4 linked regions of the Homo sapiens genome follow. The protein of the gene in region 2 purifies or fractionates together with the protein of the main gene of each other region. This does not show direct contact. Each region holds a gene or a part of one and is shown on either strand. Other genes may lie near its edges.

What was found. Proteins that work in one complex are often made in the same cells at the same time.
Region 1: the proteins of RYK (region 2) and CDHR1 purify together in Homo sapiens (affinity purification with mass spectrometry; 2 studies listed by BioGRID and IntAct, with this or other methods). This does not show direct contact.
Region 3: the proteins of RYK (region 2) and PCDH9 purify together in Homo sapiens (affinity purification with mass spectrometry; 2 studies listed by BioGRID and IntAct, with this or other methods). This does not show direct contact.
Region 4: the proteins of RYK (region 2) and FREM2 purify together in Homo sapiens (affinity purification with mass spectrometry; 2 studies listed by BioGRID and IntAct, with this or other methods). This does not show direct contact.

What each region holds. Positions count from the first base shown.
Region 1 is NC_000010.11:84,210,758-84,215,921, reverse strand, and holds part of CDHR1 (cadherin-related family member 1 isoform 1 precursor), read right to left. Parts: intron 4,922-5,164; coding exon 4,757-4,921; intron 4,275-4,756; coding exon 4,207-4,274; intron 3,744-4,206; coding exon 3,515-3,743; intron 3,355-3,514; coding exon of another isoform or gene 3,340-3,354; exon of another isoform or gene 3,297-3,339; intron 2,832-3,296; coding exon 2,574-2,831; intron 1,841-2,573; coding exon 1,301-1,840; 3' UTR 1-1,300. UniProt on the Homo sapiens protein: Potential calcium-dependent cell-adhesion protein. May be required for the structural integrity of the outer segment (OS) of photoreceptor cells.
Region 2 is NC_000003.12:134,205,061-134,210,224, forward strand, and holds part of RYK (tyrosine-protein kinase RYK isoform 2 precursor), read right to left. Parts: intron 4,770-5,164; coding exon 4,635-4,769; intron 2,466-4,634; coding exon 2,412-2,465; intron 1-2,411. UniProt on the Homo sapiens protein: May be a coreceptor along with FZD8 of Wnt proteins, such as WNT1, WNT3, WNT3A and WNT5A. Involved in neuron differentiation, axon guidance, corpus callosum establishment and neurite outgrowth.
Region 3 is NC_000013.11:66,897,452-66,902,615, forward strand, and holds part of PCDH9 (protocadherin-9 isoform 1 precursor), read right to left. Parts: intron 1-5,164.
Region 4 is NC_000013.11:38,692,798-38,697,961, reverse strand, and holds part of FREM2 (FRAS1-related extracellular matrix protein 2 precursor), read right to left. Parts: intron 265-5,164; coding exon 175-264; intron 1-174. UniProt on the Homo sapiens protein: Extracellular matrix protein required for maintenance of the integrity of the skin epithelium and for maintenance of renal epithelia. Required for epidermal adhesion. Involved in the development of eyelids and the anterior segment of the eyeballs.

The sequences.
Region 1 (5,164 bases), on a different chromosome or scaffold from region 2:
ATTAAAGACTTGGAGCTCTGGTTCTCTCTGACGGTAGCTGGCCAGGACGGTAGCGGGGATGGAGTGAGGGAAGAACAGAAGTAGAGGTGTGTGAGTCACGGCAATGCCATCATCCAGTGGTAGCCCCTAAGCCCAGCACAGTGCCTGCTGGGGCGCTTGGCAGAGTAGATGTGAGGCTCCTAATACTTTCTGGAAGAGCTGCACCCACAGAACTGGGCTGCAGAAAAATACTTTGCATTCATGCCGCTTTGCACTTGGTTAAAGCCCTCATCACCACTATTTTCTTCAATCCTCACCCTAGACCTGCATGTGAGGTAGACAGGGCCTACTTTCTTCATTTACAGATGAGGAAGAGGATGATCAGCGACTTTAAACAGCTTTCCCAAGGTTACGCGATGTGAGCAAAAGAGCTGGATAAAAACGGAAGTCTCACCACATCTCAGCCCTGATATTCATCAACTGCCCTGAATTGTCTCTTCAAGGATGGCTGGTGGGGCAGCTCCTCAGAGAGCAGCCCTGATGCTCTTCTAGTTGCCTTTAGGGCTACCTCTATAGCTCCAGCTTTGACATTTTGCGGCTCAGGGCAGTCCTGGCTGGAGACATCTGCCCTCACTCTTGGCAAGATCAATCTTCCACCTCTGTGTCCTCTGTCCCACGTGGGCATACCAGGGTCCACAGTCTCTGCCCAGACAGAATGCTCTATCTTTCCAAATGCATCCTGGCACAGTCCCACAGTCAGTGTGTTTTCTGTGCATCCTTGCTCTCCCCTTACCTACATTTGCTTTCCTACAGCCCACGAGGTTCGCTGACCTCCAGCCTGAGACAGTGCTGAGCCTCCTTTTCCTGCTCCTGCTCTCAGCTGCAGGCGTCAGGATCCAGATTCTAGTCAGTGTTGCTCCACGTGGCCAGGGCCCTGCTGCTTGACTAAGGATGATGATGAGATCCCAGTAGAACCTGAGGGACTGTGAGGTCTGGGATGGGTGAGCTGGCTTCTCGTCAATTCTCAGCCCTGAAGAATGGAGGGCATTGTAGTAGTGCCAAGGATTTGAGTAACGGGGACGTATTTGCCAATTGCATCCTAGAGCCCAATGTCTTGCCCAAGGCCCTGACTAGAGCCCTGTCAGAGCGCAACTTCTTGTTGCGCCAGAAGGTGGCGGTAGAGATGAGGACAGTGGGGATTATACCATTGTGCAAAACAGGGGTCAGTGACCTTAAGGAGCAGAGGAAGGGGAGCATAGTCCGAGCAGCAGGGTGGTGGGGGTCAGGGGCGGAGGAAAGATGGGGGGTCATAGGGCATACACTAGAAGTAAGCCTTGTTGTGCACACTCTTCTTCTCAAACTTTTGCTTGAGCTCAGAGATCAGAGTTGACTGGACGGGGCTTCCCATAGTTTTGGGTTTTGGCGGGGGTTGGGTCGGCTGCGGAGTGAGAGAGCCAGAGACAGTAGGCACGGTCCACTGGGCTGCGCCAGTGCTGGGCGCCACGCTGGGTGGTGGAGGGAGAGCCGGAGCTCTCGGGAGCAGAGAGCTTTCTGGGCTGTTGTTGTTACAGTTCTCATTGGGAGGTTTCTCTTTGAGCATGAACTTGGTAGCGGCTTTGGTGCTCTTGGACTTGAGCCACTCAATGCGGATGGTGCGGGGCGCAGGGCTGGGCCGCTTGCGGAGCACCCGCCGCATTGGCAGGACCTTGTTAGACTTCTTGTTGCGCCAGAAGGTGGCGGTGGAGATGAGGACAGTGATGGCCACGACGGTGGCCATGGTGCCGGCCAGCACACCCACGGCCTTCATGGGGTTGTCCTTGGTCTGTATCAGGAAGGCAGCCATGGGGCTCCGGGAGAGGGTCTGAAAGAGAAAGCCACTCCCTGCACTCAGCTGTTCCCACCTGGTCCCTGGAGTACAGAGTAGGTATGTGCTTCCTTAAGCCTAATGGTTTTTAAACTTTCTGGAGTCAGGAGTCCCTTTGAGAATCTGATAGGCACTATGGGCTTTTGTCCAGGAAAATGCACACAGAGAGAGCATGATGCATGCAGTTCTCCAGAAAAATGCACGCAGACCCAGCATGGTGCAGACCACTCTCTGGTACAATATGCTCAGACAGAACGCAATGCGAGCAACCTCTTTTGGATTCAGAACTCCTGCTTTAGCTGGAGTCTGTCCTTGAGATGGTAGGAGATCACTTGCCTTTGATTGTGGCAAGTGGGGGAGGGGGTCCATCTGCCCAGATGTATCAGGAGTCTCTTAAGTGACTAGTTTTCTGCCAGACACTGAGCTGAGAGCTACACATAATGACTTCACTCTGCTTTTCAACACCCGTGTGAAGGAGGCATCCTTATCCCATCTTACAGGAAAGGTAACAGAGGCTTAGCAAAGCCCAAAGTCACACCATTAATAAGTATTGAACTAGAAACTCAACCCGCTTCCAAAGACTGTGTGTTTGATGGCACAGGCTGCCTTTGATAACGTTGAGTGTCTTTTGGAGGAAGCCTGGAGATGGTCCTTCTCGCTCTGCCCACGTTGCAGAGAGGTCTGAGCTGGCCTGCTGACCCCTTTTTCCTGACCATGGCTTTGTACTCACCTCAGCATCTGTGATGTCAATCTTGAGTAAGGCTGTGGTGCTGAAGGATGGGGAGCCCCGGTCCTTGGCCTGCACCTCTAGGGACCATAGGCAGTCCCTTCCAGGTGTGATGTTGTGCAGGGCATCCAGGGAGCGGATGGAATTCTTGAGCCAGATCTCCCCCGTGTGGGAATTGATGTCGAACACGTTGGCGGGCTCTGCATGGGTGATGGAATAGTCCACCAGGTTGTTGGGTTCCTCTGCATCCTCGTCTATGGCCTGTGCGCAGGGAGAGACAGACAGAGCTGGGCTTTGGGGACAATCCTTGTGTACTCTGGCTAAATCAGCACGTCATATGGGGCTTGCTGGGTTGATGGGAAATGGTCCTGATCCTATTTTGAGAGGATTGAGTTGGGAAAGGAACAGAATGCATGCTCTCCTATAAGCCAGGGTTTACGTAGGTCTTACACATGGGCTAGCCGATTCCATTATCAGAACAAGTCTAGGAAGCAAATATTGGTGAATCCATATTACAGATGCAGAAATGAAAGCTTAGATGCAAAGTGGCTTTCCCATGGATGCAGAGGTATAAGAAAGGGAGTCAGGATTCAAAGTCAAGTCTGCTGGGTTTCAGAGTTCATCCTTTTTGCCACATTGGCAAAATGACAAAGTGCGGTGAGAAAACCACTCTTTTGAAAAGCAGGCAGACCAGCTATGTGAAGGCAAGCCAAACACTTAACCCACCTGGCCTGTTTTTTTCATTTGTTGAATAGCAATATCTTCTTTCTCAGAGTTTAATTCTCTGTTGAGGTGGGGATGGGGATATACAAAATGTCTTAAAGTCCTTTGTCCATGGTGGGAAGCCAAAAAATTTTATCTTCAATGAAATTCTTATGCCTCAGTATCTCTTGGAGCTGCTGGACCCAGGCTTTTAGGGGAGCTCAGCTGCCTCCAAAACTTACCTCAATTTTCACTGGGGTCCCTAGCACCATCGTCTTCTTCTGAACGCTCTTTCCAAACTGAGGGGGGTGGTCATTGACATCCAGCAGTGTGATAAACACCTCAGCTACGCTGTACTTGCCTTCCATGTCCTCTGCCTTCACATAGAAGTTGTACCTGGCAGTGGCCTCAGCGTCCAGGCTAGCCCAGGGCTGGGTGTAGATAAGCCCAGTGGATGGGTGGATCAGGAAGCTGCCAGGCAGAGCACATAGGCATGGGTGTGCACGCATATACACATATGTGCATACATACACATGCCTGCAATAATGAGCTGCCTCCTGAAGCAGGAGTGAGGTGTCATGCAGCTCCTCCAAAGTGTCCTACCTGCTCCCTCCTATCCTTGCAATCTAAGTGAGGTAGATCCACATGTGGACTCACCCATCTATCACTATCCAGCTTAGCAACTCCAGTTATAGTCTTTCTCTCTTCCTATGGCCTGCCCCCTCCCCAGCCAGCCCTGCTTGCCTGGCTCCTGAGGTCCTGGGCCCTGAACTTCCTCACCCTCTGCTTCAGCTTTCCACTGCCTCTCTCCACTTCTCTTCACCCAGGCTCCTGTCCCTCCCAGGCCCCTCCTGCCTCTGCCACAGACCTCCTCCACCCTCAGCCTTCCAATCCCCTTGCCCAAGGCCCTGTCCTGGATTCTGGATCTACTTACAGGTCTGCCCCAGTCCCATAGGTGGAATATTTCACTTCGCCCCAGGGTCCTGTATCTGGATCCACAGCCTGGAAGAGAAAGAGCCCTGGGTGGCACGTGCCTCTTTGTCAGGGTATGTTGGCAGCTCCCATGCCCTGAGGGTTGCTTTCAACCACAAAGCAAGGGGATTTGGGGTTTGCCCAACTGGGGAGAAATTGGTGGAGAGACCTGCCCGGGATCCCTAGTTTTCCTCCAAGAAGTTTTAAGTATTGAAAGAGCCAAGAGATTTAGATCTGGAAAACACTCATCCCTCCTTTATAAATGAGGAAGAGGGGATGGGTCCCATGCCCTGTGATTGTTGTTTACACATATATCCTCATTACTGTCCTGTGAGGTGTTGTAATACCCATCATATGGATGAAGAAACTGAGGCTAAGAGAGGGCAAGTAGCTTGTCCAAGGACAGCTAATGAGTGTGGGTTCTGCCACTCAAACTGCAATGACCTTCCAGATTTGTCTGGCTTCACAAGGCCTCCTATCCCACCCAGTCCCTGGGCCAGTGCCCAACCCACTGTGACAGCCACCACGCTGGAGCCCCCTGGGGCGTTCTCAGGAATCCTGGCAACGTAGTAGAGGGAGTCGAACTTGGGGACATTGTCATTGGTGTCCAGGAGCTGGATCACAACATCCGCTGTGGAACTGAACTTCTCTGGGGTGTTCACTTCAACAGCCAGGAGCTGGGAAGGGGGGAAAATGGGGACTTGTCTGGGTAGGCACTCATGCTGCAGAGAGCCTTCCCACCTCATCTCCCCAGGACTGATGTGGCATCCATCTGCCGTGTCTCCCGATCTTCCTCGCAGCTGCCAACCAGCTATTCCTGTAAGGGTCACCTCTAAGGCCTGGCATCTTCCCCTACCCCGTCAATTGGCTTGTAATGCTAGCTTTCTTATCATTCCCATCTGTATTGGGGTCAGTTTATT
Region 2 (5,164 bases):
AAAAAGAAGAATGAAAAGTTTTGGCTCAAGCAATAACTTGGATAAGGGTAACTTTACAAAGATAAAAATAAGCAGGTTGGGGATGTGAAAATCAAGAGTTTTGCCCAAGTTAAATTTGGAGTACCTAGTCTACTAACTAGGTACCTCATATCTCCATGCACAGACGTTAAACTGACAGATATACAAGTTTGGAGTTCTGGGGATAGGTCAGGATAAAAGATAAAACTTACAGCTTTCAAAAACACATGGAAATAAGAAAAATAAAACTTTTCTAAAATTTAACCTTCCTATCAACAAACAATAAATCAGAACAGATTAACGTAGAGACCAAATGACTTCTAGGGCAGCTAGACTTGGCTGTAGCCTGAATGAAGGCATGACTTTCATCAAGAATTACCTTATGCCACAGGAAAGCTATTCAATCTTGGGAGGGACAGAAAAAAATTCTGAATTCTGGAGGCATATGTTAGCAGTACTGTCCAAGCACTTTCCAGAGCAGAGCCAAGGATACGGCTCTGCTGGGCAGATCCCCCTAGATGCGCCCTGCTCAATTACCTCCAAATTCCAGGCTTTCCTATGCATTTTTCCCATTCCCTCATTCATCCTTCATTTGCCACCATCTGGTCACCCTTCAGCTCTCAGAAGAGCTGTCACTGTTCTCAGGAAGCTATCCTTGGGTTCCCAAATCCCCTGTGCTTGCCTTATCATAGCTTGCCATGCTATGTTGGTATCATTGCCTATATTGCCTCGTCTATTTCTCCCACTACATTATAAACCCCCGAGGAAAGGATCTCTTTGCTCACAGTTTAGTCCTCTGCTTCAGTCATACCGCCTAACACACCACAGACTCTCCATAGGTACTGGGTGGATGAATAAATAGAAAGGGCGGGAAGATGAGAGGCAGCAAGGAAGACACAGACAGAGGCCAAGAATATGCAGTACTGCTCTTTGTGAGAAGTAATATCCTACTAGCATAAAAGAAATGGGCAAAGTCACCAGAATTTTAAAAGTAAACTTTGGCAACAGTGACATTTTTTTTAATGTTTTTTCTTTCTTTTCAGAAATATTCCAGCAAGTAGACGATATGTCACATTATTTTACAGGCAAAAAAATTCCCCTTTGGGACATCCAGATACTCTGTGCCTCCCAAGGTGATGAAAAGACAAAATAGGCAGCACAGAGTACCTACCATCTATGGACTATTCTTACCAAAAGAGTTGGTTCTAAATCTAATCAAGTGCAAAATCTATCTGCCAGTTTACAGAAAAACAAACAAACAAACATGTTCAATGATTTCAGGAAGATGCAGAATGTGGGAAATTCTATGGGACAAATGACATAATTTCTTCAATAAATAAATAATATTAATAAAAGGGTTGGTGGTTTCTGATTAATACAAAACATATATCACCCAACAGTTGTGTAGGCTTCATTTGGATCTTGATTCAGGAGGAAAAAAAGACATTTTAAAGACAATCGGGTTAATTTGAACATGGACTATCTATTGGAGATACTAAGCAACTGCTGTTAATTTTGTTATATGTGATAAATCAAAATGAATAGGTATTAGGTGATTGTGGGGGTTTTTTAAAGGCCCTTTTAAAGGAGATCTACACTGAAATATTTATGGGTGAAATAATCTGATGCCTGGGATGTGCCTGAAAATACTCTCCTCCACCCCTAACCAACCACAAAAGGAGGGAATCAATGGAAGAACAATGGCAAAGTGTTGATCATTACTGAGGCTGGGGGATGGGCACATGGGAGTTCATCAAAGCGTACTCTGAACTTTTATATACTTGAAGTTTTCAAAACCAATTTTTTAAAGTCTACTTGCATGAAGAGAATCTAGTATCCTTTTAAGATACTGCTATTAACACTACCGCAAGAAGAGTAAGACCCAACGATGTCTTCATGTCAGAAAAAAAAAAGAAGTTTGTAATAATATCTAAACACAACCGATACCAAAAAATAAAAATCTACTTTGCATACCTGCTCTGTAGGTTTAAGTAACATAATATCTTTAAGCTTACACCTTCACCTGGATGAAATTAGCTTAAGATTAGGTCCAGACTGCAAGCCAGATTTTCTAACCCTCTGCTAATAAACATCTTACACATATTTCATGGTCATACTTTAATTATGACTACTCAAAAATATATGATATTCTTGCTTGTAAAACTTTTTAGCTTACTCGTTACAAAATACGTATAAATTTTAGTTCTCAAAATATTCAATATTCTAACAGTTTCATGACCTATCCACCAGTCTACAAAGCACCAGCAAAATAACAGCATGGTGTCATTATCATTTGATACCATGAGGCCTCCAAGCTTCATGCAATCATGTTTATATGCAGTCAACCATTTTTCATTTCTAATAATGGATAAAGATAATACAGTAACACTTACAAATAGTTCTGCTAGTGTTTTTGTCCAAGGCTGAAGTTTTTACTTCTTCAAGTTCTGAATTTAAAGGAGAAAAATGATGCTTTAGAAATTCTCTTTTCCATGAAAATCCTTAATTACTATAATTATCAGAACATTGCTGGAACTCAGCAACAGGTATGTGTTGCGAGATAATGAAAGCTATGTTACTATTCTGATAATCACCACTACAGTCACCAATCAATAGTCTATACCACTGTTAGCCAAAGGGTGTTACTTCTAGATGCTCAGTGAAAATGTTCCTATGATCAAGAAGTTTGGGAAAAGCCACATACTATAGTGTCTCTTTGGAGCTTCACAGTGAACATTAGAATATAAAGACTGAAAGGAGTTATGGGGTCACAAAACTTGTCTAACCCATAATTCCCATCCTCATATGATAAAAGAAACTTTTCTTGCTAGTAACACCTACTAACATTCCATATAGTACAGATGTTTTCTGTTGCAGACAGTTTTTGAAATATAGTAGGCTGGAAAACCAGATAAATAAATACATTAGGATCACATAATAAAGTAAGAGTCATGAGCCTGAACTGGATGACTAGGGTGGCCAAAACCATGACCAACAAATACAGAGGGCCAGAGAAAAACTTAAGTCTAAAACAGAATAGAAAATTACTCCAACACAGAATTTTAATGTTAATTTCACACACATATTAAAGAAAATGGAGAAAGTATGTGACCATTTTGAGTATCAGCTGATCATTAACCTTAGCAGATATTAGCACTGGTGGGATCCAGAGGCCACACCATGTCTGGTTATCATTCTGCCTTACTTAAGAGTAACAGATGAAGCACCATGGTACAGTCATGCCCATCTCTCTGAGGATAAGGAACTGAATGTTTTACACTCCTCACTGGCTAGCTGTGGTAGCCTAGGTGGCCAAGGGTCCAATCTCCTTATATCAAATATATAATGACTACATTGGAGTAGAGAGTCTCTGAAATCTCCTTTGTCTTTAACATTACATGGAAGTTGGTATATAACTGAATATAGTAGAACTGAAAATTGTACCAAAACACTAAAGCTGAAAGATGCTAACTCTTCTTTCTTAAAATGTCTATTCAAATGTAGTGCAGCTTTTTTATTGGCATGTACCCAGACATTAGCCAATTCAACTCACTTGTTGGCCTTAGGTGTTTTCATAACACTCAGCACTGATTTCAATTGGGAAATTTATTAAAAGAAAGTTTAACAAAGAGGCTGAGAGAACAGGTCTGCATCCTAGCTGCACCACTTAGCTATCTGATCTTGACAAGCTAGATTCTCTGAAGCTCAGCTTCCTTTTCTGAAAATGAAGACAATGAGAGAACCCATTGCCTAGGGTTGCTGTAGGGATTAAACAGGTGTAATACCTATCAAGCACTTAGAACACAGTAAGCACTGAGGGTTTGCGAGGTTTTTTTAAAGTATATTTCCCCCCCCCATCTTAGATACTAACCAATTCTACCTACGTGACCTTGTAAATTTGGGTCACTGTAGCTTTGTGGAACTTACAGTGAGTGGGTTGGACTAAACTTGTAAGGAGAACTCTAAAATTCTTTGATTTATGACCTAGCATGCTGGAACTCTTTCATATCCACTCGATTTCTTCAGTAACAGATAATTCAAAACCAAAAAGAACTAACTTTGCTAAGTACCCACATACGGTATTCTAAGTTTTAGGCTAGATTTAATGAACCGTAAAAAACAACAAACCTCTGAAACAGGTATTATGCCCATTTTACAGATGAAAAAACTAAGCCTCAGAGAGGTTAAGTAACTTGTATCAATATCCTGAAAAGAGCAGAGCTGCCATTCCAACCCAGGTCTATCTCACCCGAGAGCAATGCTTCTGCATAAAAGTAACTTGATAAGGGAAACACAGTTAACATAGTTACTCAGAAGTCCCAACAGATTTTTCTTATTTCTTTACCTCTTCAACCATTTTAGCACTATTCCTAATGGAAAACATCTTAGCAATTCTGACAAAAGATTTGAGAAAGCATGGACTGAATGAGGCCTGAGTGAGATTCTTGGCTACCAACCATCTGGGATTATCTCAAAACTTCACCTGCCAGTGCTCTTTTCTCACTTGCAACTATAATCATGAGTTGGACATACTTAAATCTGTGAAAAAACAACAAACTCTATTTTTCACCTTCTCACATACATGTAAAACATATTTTGGTAAATAAATTCCTTACTTTTGTAGCACATTTTCCTTCGTTTAAAATTTAAGACGGTAAAATTTTTTGAAGAATTTACTGTCAAGTTGAGCTGCATTAGTATCATAACTTCAGAATCTACTTTGCCAGTACAGGAAAGCTCTACCCGAAACACTGTTTAAAAAAGATAAGAAAAATATTTTACATTTTCTAAAAATCAACATTAATGCCCCAAAATGATTCTTTTAAACATTTTAGAATTACTTATTTTTGCTGCAAGAAAACTAAAAGTAATACATTTAAATAAAGTAACTAAACAAAAGTTTTTAGAGATCTTCAGACTACCACACCTCTAGACATTAAGCATTTAATTCATTATGGATATAAAAGTTAGTATTAAAGAACAAACCAAGACATCAATGAAGAGATAATTGTTTTCAACTTCTGCTCATTGTTTTTAATACACCACTTTGTCTCATAAGTCCTGCTATTCCAGTACACTAAAACTGAAGGATCATAAGGCAAACCTTAACAGACACATCAGCAATAGTAACAACAGAAATTACATG
Region 3 (5,164 bases), on a different chromosome or scaffold from region 2:
TTGATGGCCCCATTTAAAAAATGAAATCAATTCACATCAGAAAGCAGAGACATGTAGTAGAGGGTTGATCAAATATGCCTGTTTTCATATTTGCCTACATCCCTCTTAAAATTAACACAAAATTTTCTCAAGCATAAGTTCAATAGTCTGAAATAAACCAACATTCATGTTTCTAGAAAATTGTATTATACATAGGCATTAGACATGAGTGTATGTAGTGTTTCTATACTACTGCAGTATAAGTTCTTTAAATTCTTGGTAATTTGTTACAAATTTACATATGCTTATTTAGCAAGTAATAGGAGCCTGTCAAATATTTTAATGATTTTTTTGAAAATTTATCTCTATATAACACACATTTCACATAACAGATCTATATTAAGTGCAAAGATTCCTAAATGCTATTTGGAATTGTAGCCAGAAATTGTCCTGTGATTTGTTAGAAATTATTTTCCAGGTCAATCTTACCTAAAATGGCATAAGATGTTTGACTATTCCCAGTTGGGCATGTCAGGACTTAACTCTAACAATTCTCCAGTCCATGATGTATTTTATTTGCCATTTTTCTGAGGTGCAGTTTTGGAACCTTCATGGTAAAAGGGTGAAAAACTTCTTTATCTAGTGAGTGAGCCAGACTGATGCCCAACATGCTTTCTCTAATACTTGTTATATATGCAATGTTTCACAGTGACTGAGATGTAAAATATTGCTTATCATTTTTCTTAATTTATTGCACTTTGGAGAGCAATGTTACTAACAATTTAAATATTTTAATATGTTAGGAGTTATTCCCCAAATATGTATGCATGTATTTAAGTATGTAAATAACATATATGTGTGTGTATATGTGTCATTTACTAGCCTTGGGGTTTTCCAAAAAGCTGTCTTTATGAAGAAAGAAAAAATTTAGTGTTATTAGTAAATATCTATTAATTGTAAATAACTTTATTACTCTAAAATATAATGTAAAAATCTTCAGAGAATTATTGCTAAATGATTTACCTAATTATTTTAGTTTTAAAGCTGATATCAACAAGAACACCTATTCTAAGGACTGAACATATTTATTTGTGTGCTTGTACATAATTATGTAAATATACTTGGGTAATATGACTACATAATCATGAAGCACAGGAAAATACAGGTATGTGGTATAATATTCATAATACAGCAATAACAGGAAAATAAAGGTGTGTCGTATAATATTCATACACTAAATCAGATTTCGTGTATGAATATTTTTTTAAAAAGAAAATAAAAGACCAAGTAAGACAAAAGCAAAAGGGTTTTGGCTTTATATCTTTCCTATTTTATTATTTAAAAGTAGCAGATAATGTTACCATTTTGCTCCTGCTCCATTTGGTATTATTTAAACAATAGAGTTCTAGGCTGTGTAACAAACTGAGCCCCGTTGTACTCTAGCTATCAGTGTGTCCTTGGTTGGTGATGTAGGCTCAAGATCACCTAGGCACCCATAACTTTATCTTAATGTGGAGGGAAATTAGACTTACCTTGAAGACAGTTGTCTTGAATTAGGTAGAAAATGTGAAATACAAGACACATAATAATAGTTTAATACATGGGAGTTCTCCTCTCACGCACCCCTCTTACTCACCATTTGACATATTTTAATTCTATTAAATATTTCTATCACATGACTCAATTGGCAATTTTATGAAACCAATGGTTATTTCACTTATACGCATTTAATGAATCCAGCAAAACCTGTGTTATGAATTTACATAAAAGGTCAAAAATATGTTCCTTATCAAAATGGTTTTCTCAATTTTTCTGTGGAGATTTATAGCAGTGGCCCATCCTGGGATATCTTAATCAACCATCTGCATCCATGAATTTCATACTCATGATAACTGCCACATTTCCAAAGTCTAGAGGCTAAAATTCACAGTTAGTTTAAAACCCTTCCACCAATCTCCCTAACTCTTAGAGCTAAGATTTCCATCTGACACTGATTTTCGGATTTCACCCCTACAAGGGAGAAGTCCTATCTCAAAAATTCATACACTGAACACTAAACCATTTTGTAAAATATTCTTTAGCTCAAGCATCAAAAACAGTGACAGGGAAGAGCTACTCATACTGAGATGCAGTCTTGTGTGAATTCCAATAACTATGAGACATTTTCCTACAGATTGCAGAATACAGACACTGAAAGCTCTGCTTGCATTATATACTGTTTCATGGGAAAAGGGAATGAAATATAATAGAAACAAAGTGACAATGAAATACGGATCAAAAATGCTTATTAAAGGCATTATGCATTTATGGCATAAAAACAATGTGCACTTTTTTATTCCGGTGCTTCGATTTTAATCATTGCAATGTTTCTGTGTACCCAATGACAAAAGGTATGTCAGGGAGAGAAAACTTAAACATGACAGTTTAAATTCCACACCATTTTTAAAATCTAGTTTAAGAAAGAACTTCAAGTATAAACTATTTTATTTAACATTTGTTTGGAAACTTTGTGTTTGAAGGTAAAGTCTTTAGATTACTCTGGGATCAGTAATTCTAGGATCGAATTCTAATGCTATCACTAGCTAGCTCTGAGAGGTAGGGCAAGCTACTCAATCGCTGTTATCTTCACGTTATGTTTCAGTAATATGCATAGGTAATCTCTGGTCTCTGACAATCAAATAGCCTGTGAGGTTTTTTGTTTGTTTGCTGTTACTTAGATAATATCATGGCATAGTTATCTTTGCAGTTTCTGAAGCCATGTGGCTGTGGCTATCTTCCAGCCCACTCATTCCTGTCTGTGTGCATTTGAGCAAATTACATAACCTCTCAGTGTCTCCTTTTCCCATCTGTAGAATAAGAATAATAATCATACCTACCTAATGGGATTGCTGTCAGAATTAAATAAGCTATATTCCAACAATTCTAATATTAAAAACCCCTTATTTTTGCATGTATTAAAACAGGACAAATATTAAAGAAATCAAAAATAAGCATTTGTCAGAGTTAAATTGGCAGCATTTTACCCTAGCAGTACATAAAATTGTAGCATGTTTATACTCTAGTGGTAGATGAGAAGAATTATTATAATGCATATGACGTGCTTAGAATAGGGTCTGGCACAACTTTTTCTCAATAGCTGATATAACATTTCTCTATAAGTAAGCAATACTTCTTACATCTAAATTAAGAGTGATAGGTTAATAACAAGCTAATAATAATTAAAAGCTTGCTGGTCACATCAGTCTCGGTTTTATTATGTATCTAGTGTCATAATATAAATTTAAGAATTTCATCCAGATTAGTCAGCACTCATTGACACCGAACATGACTCTGTTTAATAGTATAGTTTTCTACAGTTAAATATTTGTGTGTGTTAAACAGAACAATCATCTTTCTTGTTACTATATTAAGGTGATTAAAAGGGAGGGGAAATATAAATTGTGAAAAAATAAAAATTAGGAAAATACCTGCACTTACCAGGCTCAGTACAGAATTAAATATAATGAAAAATAACATTTCAGATGCCAATTTTGTAGGTTATAATCACCTTTCATTGTTAATTCTCAAGAATAATTAACACTAGATTAATAACCTTAAAAAAGTGGTTACTAAAACTGCCCATTTTATTATTGGTCTACAGATATTAAGCATTTATACAGAAACCTTGCATCTTAGAATGTTTTAAAAAAAACTCGAAAGATGACATCACTTATCTGTTTTCTTCAAGTTTTATTTTATAAGAAATTTCAGATATTGTCTCTCTGAATTTAATACAAAATGCATGTTAAAGAAATTAAATGTATTATGATCAAAAACAGTTTAGACTAACCAAGGACAAAATGTGAATGATGGGAGAATATACATATAAACTTCTTGAAACAGTCCCTAGCACAGAGTATGAGGTACTATTTAACACAGAAAGATATTTAACTGTAGAAAACTATGCTGTTAAATAAGCATAAGTTGTCAATATCGTCATCATTATTTAGTATCACAGATCATCAGGGATGGGTAGGACCTTCCAGACAACCTAGTTCAAAACCATTCAGAGAAAATGGGCCTGGAGAATGATGGTTAAATGAGAATTTACGGAATGAAAGATTTATAAAAATATTTTGTCTTCTTTGTTTATAAATAAACTATAGTAGATTTACTTTCACTGTTCTTTCACAAATGGACTAATAATATAAATAAACATCATAACTCTAGATGTCATTTTTTTTCTTCAAATTCCCTAGACCTTTAGTCAAACCCTGTGCAAGCTGTCTTCCTGTGCTTCGGACCTTATAAAATATCTAAGGGAGAAAAAAGTATGATTTATAGAAAATTATTTGAATTATGTCTCATTTATATTCTCTACGAAAAATACGAAAATCTCCAATAAATCATCTCACCACCTTTGGTAATCAAAGGGATTTTCTGAGGAATATGGTTTCTGAGGAGTATGGTTAAGTCAATAAACACAAACATAAAATGTTATAAAAATAAATATAATTCTTAGAAATCTGAAATCCACTTGGATCTTAATGACTTGCACAACATCCTGGGTAGGGTTTTGTACTATTTACCTTAATCTTTACTTATGAGAAAAAATTTTTCTCTGCCATCCAATTAGAACTATTGTGTTATTGTTGGTAATTAATGGGAACAATTGTATTATCTTAGATAGTTGAAACATACACAGTGAAGAGGAAAAAATCAAAGGGTTGGAAACTATGGTTCTTCTCTCAATGTTCAAGAGATTTAGGCTTTGGATAAAAAAAGAAAGAAAAATATAAAAAAGTATATATGCTGAAGTTTAGAAAATCATTTCTAAGTATTTAGACCCACACAAAGAAAAAGAAATAGAATAAAAATATGCAGAGAATTAGGGGATAGAGCTGTTCGAAATATTGCTCAATCCTCTTTCAACTTCCACTAATGTTTTATCTAAAAAGAAGTTGCTTTCTATATTAAGTTTATATTAATCAAAGTAGTTTCTTCAATATACATTACCAGTGGGATTTTTGAAAATAATAGATTCCTTTAGATGGCAAAAGCAATAATTATTACAATTTTTTTTTTACTAATCATGATTAAGAAAAGGTTTGAAGGGAATGGAGGGGACCTACGTTCTGTAAGAAAACAGAATACACACACAGGCACACACACATACGCATACACATGCATTACCTCTCTTTCTACA
Region 4 (5,164 bases), on a different chromosome or scaffold from region 2:
CATAGTAGGATTGTGTCATAGTGAGATTGTAAAATTGTCTACAGCAAATACCAGGTTAAATTTAGGTGATCATGAAATATTACTTGATGAAGACTTCTTGTAATAATGTCATCAGAGAGCAACCAAGAAAAGCGTCTCTCCTTGCGGTCACTACCAGGAGAGGGGAATACTTACCACCATCTTCAACTGCAAAATAGAACATATCACTTGTGGCATTAGCCCCTTCTCTTAAGACATAGCATATTTTCATGTCATCAATGTCAGCTAGAAAATAACCAAAAAACAAGATGATTAATTACCAGAGTAAAATTGATGATTCATTATGGTAAATTTTATTGGCTATTAGTTTTCCTATAAACATGTTTAAATTCCTTTTTCCTCCTAACAGAAACAGTGCTGTCTTATTTCTCAGATCTCTAAGCCCCTAGATTTCAGCTGTCCCATGGACACCTGATCCCTCACACAGATAAATACAGTGCAAGAGTTAGTTTATAATAATAGCAAGGTGTTTCCCCTCCCAGTGGTATTTGCATGTTCATGCACCAAAGGAATGACTGTCTAAATATGGAATGTCAGGCACCATGACAGGTGGAAAGGAAGATATTTTGAGGCATGGCAGATTTCCTGGCACTCTTGAAATCACATCCTTTGCCTCCCAGTAGGGAACTGGCCCGCAGAGGACAGAGCTTTGCTCCCCAACACTGGCTAACTTTTCTTACTTTTTGTGCTGTAGCAGGCTATTTTTTAAGCTCTCCAAAGTTTGAGAGAAAAAAATAAGATGATATTTTCAAAAAATCACACACATTGAAATAACTGATGACTCCCTGTTGAGAACAAAAAACATCTAATAAAAGTGGAAACGGGCTGGACACGGTGGCTCATGCGTATAATCCCAGCACTTTGGGAGGCTGAGGCAGGTGGATTATGTGAGGTCAGGAGTTCAAGACCAGCCTGGCCAACATGGTGAAACCCTGTCTCTATTAAAAATTGGCTGGGTGTGGTGGTGCGTTCCTGTAATCCCAGCTATTCGGGAGGCTGAGGCAGGAGAATTGCTTGAGCCTGGGAGGCAAAGGTTGCAGTGAGCTGAGGTCGCACCACTGCACTCTAGCCTGGGCAAGAGAATGAGACCCTGTCTCAAAAAAAAAAAAAAAGTGGAAACCTTTATTCATGGCAGAAAGTTATATTGCCTCAGAAATGTTCCTTATGTTGTTTCCTACTTTATCAAATTCACATGCATACATTTGTTTTCATTATGAAGACACAATTTTTAAAACTTATTCATCCATCTTACCAGTTCCTTTCCTTAATGATGCCACACATACAACATAATAAGAAAAAAATCGTTTTGTTCTGTGATACTCATAATAGATCATTAATTGATCTGGGCCAATCAGTGAGTTTCTAAGACTACATAAAGTCAAGATCATGGCTAAAAATAGCTATGACAATGATAGGTAATATTTATCTGTCTAGTGTGTGTTCTATGGTTTTTTCATCTCCTAAAAGCTCTAGTAAGTTCATGCTATGGAATTCAAAGGCTTATAAAGAAGACAATGGCTTTATGAAATGTTAATCTCAAGTGAGGCAAGGCATTAGGATGGACCAATGATGCCACAAATTTCTATAGCTCCACTTTACAGATGTAAAATGTGTGGTCTACCCTGGCTCATAAAGTTTTGAAAGGTGACTCATTATTAGGAACACTTGCAGAATGGAAAATCTGATTTTATAGTTAATGGTACCCTCCTGCTAATAGAGGTATTTGGAGGTAAAACATGCCTAAGTCGCTTGATTCTCCCTTAGCACTTCATTTGTTTTTTAAAACAAAATATAGATATGTGGGTCTCACTATGTCGCCCAGGCTGGCCTCAAGCAATCCTCCCACATCAGCCTCCCAAAGTGCTATGATTATAGGTGTAAGCCACCTAGCCAGGCCCCATATTTCTAACTCTACTATAACTTTCCACACTTGCTGCCTAGTTTCACTTTTATCTTTCTGTATGGTTATCTTTCCCAGTAGATGAAAAACTTCTGGGATTTTTTTTTCCTATCTTAACTTCCCACAGCTCTTTGCTTAGGATATTACAGTAGCAAAGGCGCAAATGTTTCTCAATTTAAAATGAAAAGGCTGAGTAGGTAGATCACACTTGTATCTCTACCTTTGCATGTATGATGTTTCTGCCAGGGTAAGAACTGAAGCCCCTACACAACTCTTTGCCTGTTTACTGTTATAATTCTTAATTGTATAACCTTCACTTTATCAGTAAAAAAATGCAGTAAACTCTGCTGACTACACATCTTTACCACAAGAACCATGACCTCTGGCCATGTGGAGAAGACCCTCTTCCAATGTTCCCACCCCTTCAAATTGCATAAGAAAATCTAAAGGCTCTACTAGGAGAAAAGGCACTGTTTAGCATGCCCAGCATCTGTATCAATGTTTTCTTAAGCGAAATTGTAATCGTTAAGGGATAGTTTCATTGAAATAAATCCTCACTTCAAAACAGAATTTTAAGAACTTTTCTTTTTTCAGATAAAGAAAACATAAATGCAACTATATGGCACTCTGGTACCCAATTTTCCCTCCAAGTTAGGGCATGTGTTATTGATTAGTTGGAACATACTAAAACCTTTTATATTTTTCATATAATTAATTAATAATTCATGGTTCAAAAAAGAGCCTCTAAAAAAAGTAAGTAAAGACTTTCATCATCATACTGGTATTCTAAAGGCACCTCTACAAATAACATAAACACACGTTACATATTTATGTATATATAAATGTAATAACGTCTAGCTTTCTTAAGACACAAAAGTAGTAGAAATATAATCTAATAGCCAAAATGTAATCTTTTTAAAGCAAATATCTAAGAATTATCTAGATTTTCTTCTAGTTGTTAAATATACATTAAATTTATTTCAGTTTATCTACAAAATTATTCCATGAGATTTTTTTGTTTGTTTGTTTTTAATTCTAAGTTCATTAACATATCAGGCAGCCACATCTGGTTCAAACTCTTTGAAGACATTTCTGCTTTCCTGAAACTGGCTTATAAATTATCCCACAGAATATATCATTACGTACTTATTGTAGGGAAGAAAAATCCAGGTACTTGAGACATGCAATTTAGATCTGGGTTAAGGGGAACAGGGGCAACTTGGCAAAGAGGTGAAGTTTGAAATAAATAAATGATATCCATAATTTACCTAATTATACATTGTTAACTTTTCATCAATTTAATAAGTTTTAGAAAGGAATTAATTTTTTTCTTCTAGGAACCATTTAGTCAATCAATTTAGGAATAACCTTCTCTAGCTACCTGTGCTAAACTGACCTAATTCAATGCATTGAAAATCCATCAAAATATAGGTTTACCTTATCCCTTCATGATAAAGCAAAAACAAAAAGAAATAAAAGGACTGCATAGTCTTCACTCTTAAGCACTGCTTTCATTTCTCCTAGTGGAAAAAGAGCCATGGTAGCTTTCTGATGGCGCTTTCTCCGTTTTTTAAATCACTTATCTAATCTCCATAAATAACAGCTACGGATCAAAGTCTAGCCTTGACTTGTTTGAATGAGTGCCATGTGATTGAATACCAACAGCTTCCCTAGTCAATATTTTGGTTTATATTGGAATGTGATAATTTTCCTTAAAAATTCTTAAAAAGTCACATCACATAATAAGCATAACTTCTCTACATTTACAAAGATGACAAAAATTAATCATGGTGACTCAAAGTCAGTAAGAGAAAGAACAACTGCCTATAATGAAATAGCATAATTTTTAGAGTTCAAAATTTCAGAAATAATATTCTAATATTGTGAGCTGTTGGACTTAGTCCACAGAATTTAAATTAAATCATTTGCCTGTCTTCATCAAAATAGTCCTTTTAAAAATCTCTAAATCAGATTTCTTTTTCAGGTCAGAGGAGTAATTTGAAGAACCATTTTCTATTATCTAATATATTCCTTTCATTCTCTTCCCTCTCCATGAAAATAAACCAGTGTAAGACGGCATGGCATCGCTAGCCTCAGAAAGCCTTCACATAAAAGTTTCCTACTGGTCTGGCATGACACTTGGCACTTTGAGGTTTTCCTGTCCCTGCAGGCCCTGGGAGACATTCAGGCTTTTAGCCAAGAATCAGGAGGTTGGAGTGTGGAGCTATTTGCCAGCACCTCAAACAGAGAAGTAGTCCACTTTAACAGTGCATTTTGCTACTTCCATGTTTATTAAAGCATTTGTTATCTAAGAGTACAACACAGTTGCAGGAAAAGAACACCCCCACTGGGATGCCCTGGGGTTAAGCTCCATCTCTACCCATGGATCCCACATAGGAAAGATCTAGTGTCCATTCTGACATGGTGAGATTTTCATGAAAGCAACCCAAATCCCACTGTAATGAAAGTTGCATGTTCTGCAGAACGGAGCCCTGACTCCCAAGCCAGTATAGTGAATGGGCTTCTCCCTTCCCTCACTAAATAACTCTGCATAGGACACTTGTCCTTTCTGCCTCAGATTGTGTCCACCCACAAAGGAAATTCAGGTTAGAAAAATCCTGTTGCCTAAAGACCGCAGGTGCCTGAAGCAACTGTTTTTTGTCACTGTGTTTGCAACAGGTCAGAGAGGAGGTTCACAATGATGAAATAATTTCCCCCTTCTAATATTAAGCTTGTCTACTTATCTTCATGCTCTTAATAATGAATTAGATGTATATTTTGGTGATGAACATATTGTTATTTTACACATCTTTAAGTATACTTTCCTTTTTCATGTATATCCTAGTAGCATGCCCTGTAAATATCATTGTTATAACTCTAGATAGGTGTTTATCAATTACGTCTCTGGATGAGTATTTGCCTGTCATGAAATATTATTAACAATTTTAAAAATCAACAAAGTAAATAAATGTAAACAAATCTTTTAGTTACAAAGTTCCTAACAACTATAACCGTGTCAGAGCAATGCTCTTAAAATTTATTCAAAGTAACCTAAGTTTGAAGGCTTTTTTGGAATGGTAATTGATAATGACAGCAATGTGAATAAACAGTATTTAGAAAGCACATCCTTCATTAAGGTGCCAAAATGCTTCATGAACCACCTGCAGCATACAACACAGAGGATGCGTTGGATAGGTATGGCAAATGGAGCAGAATTGGAAAGCC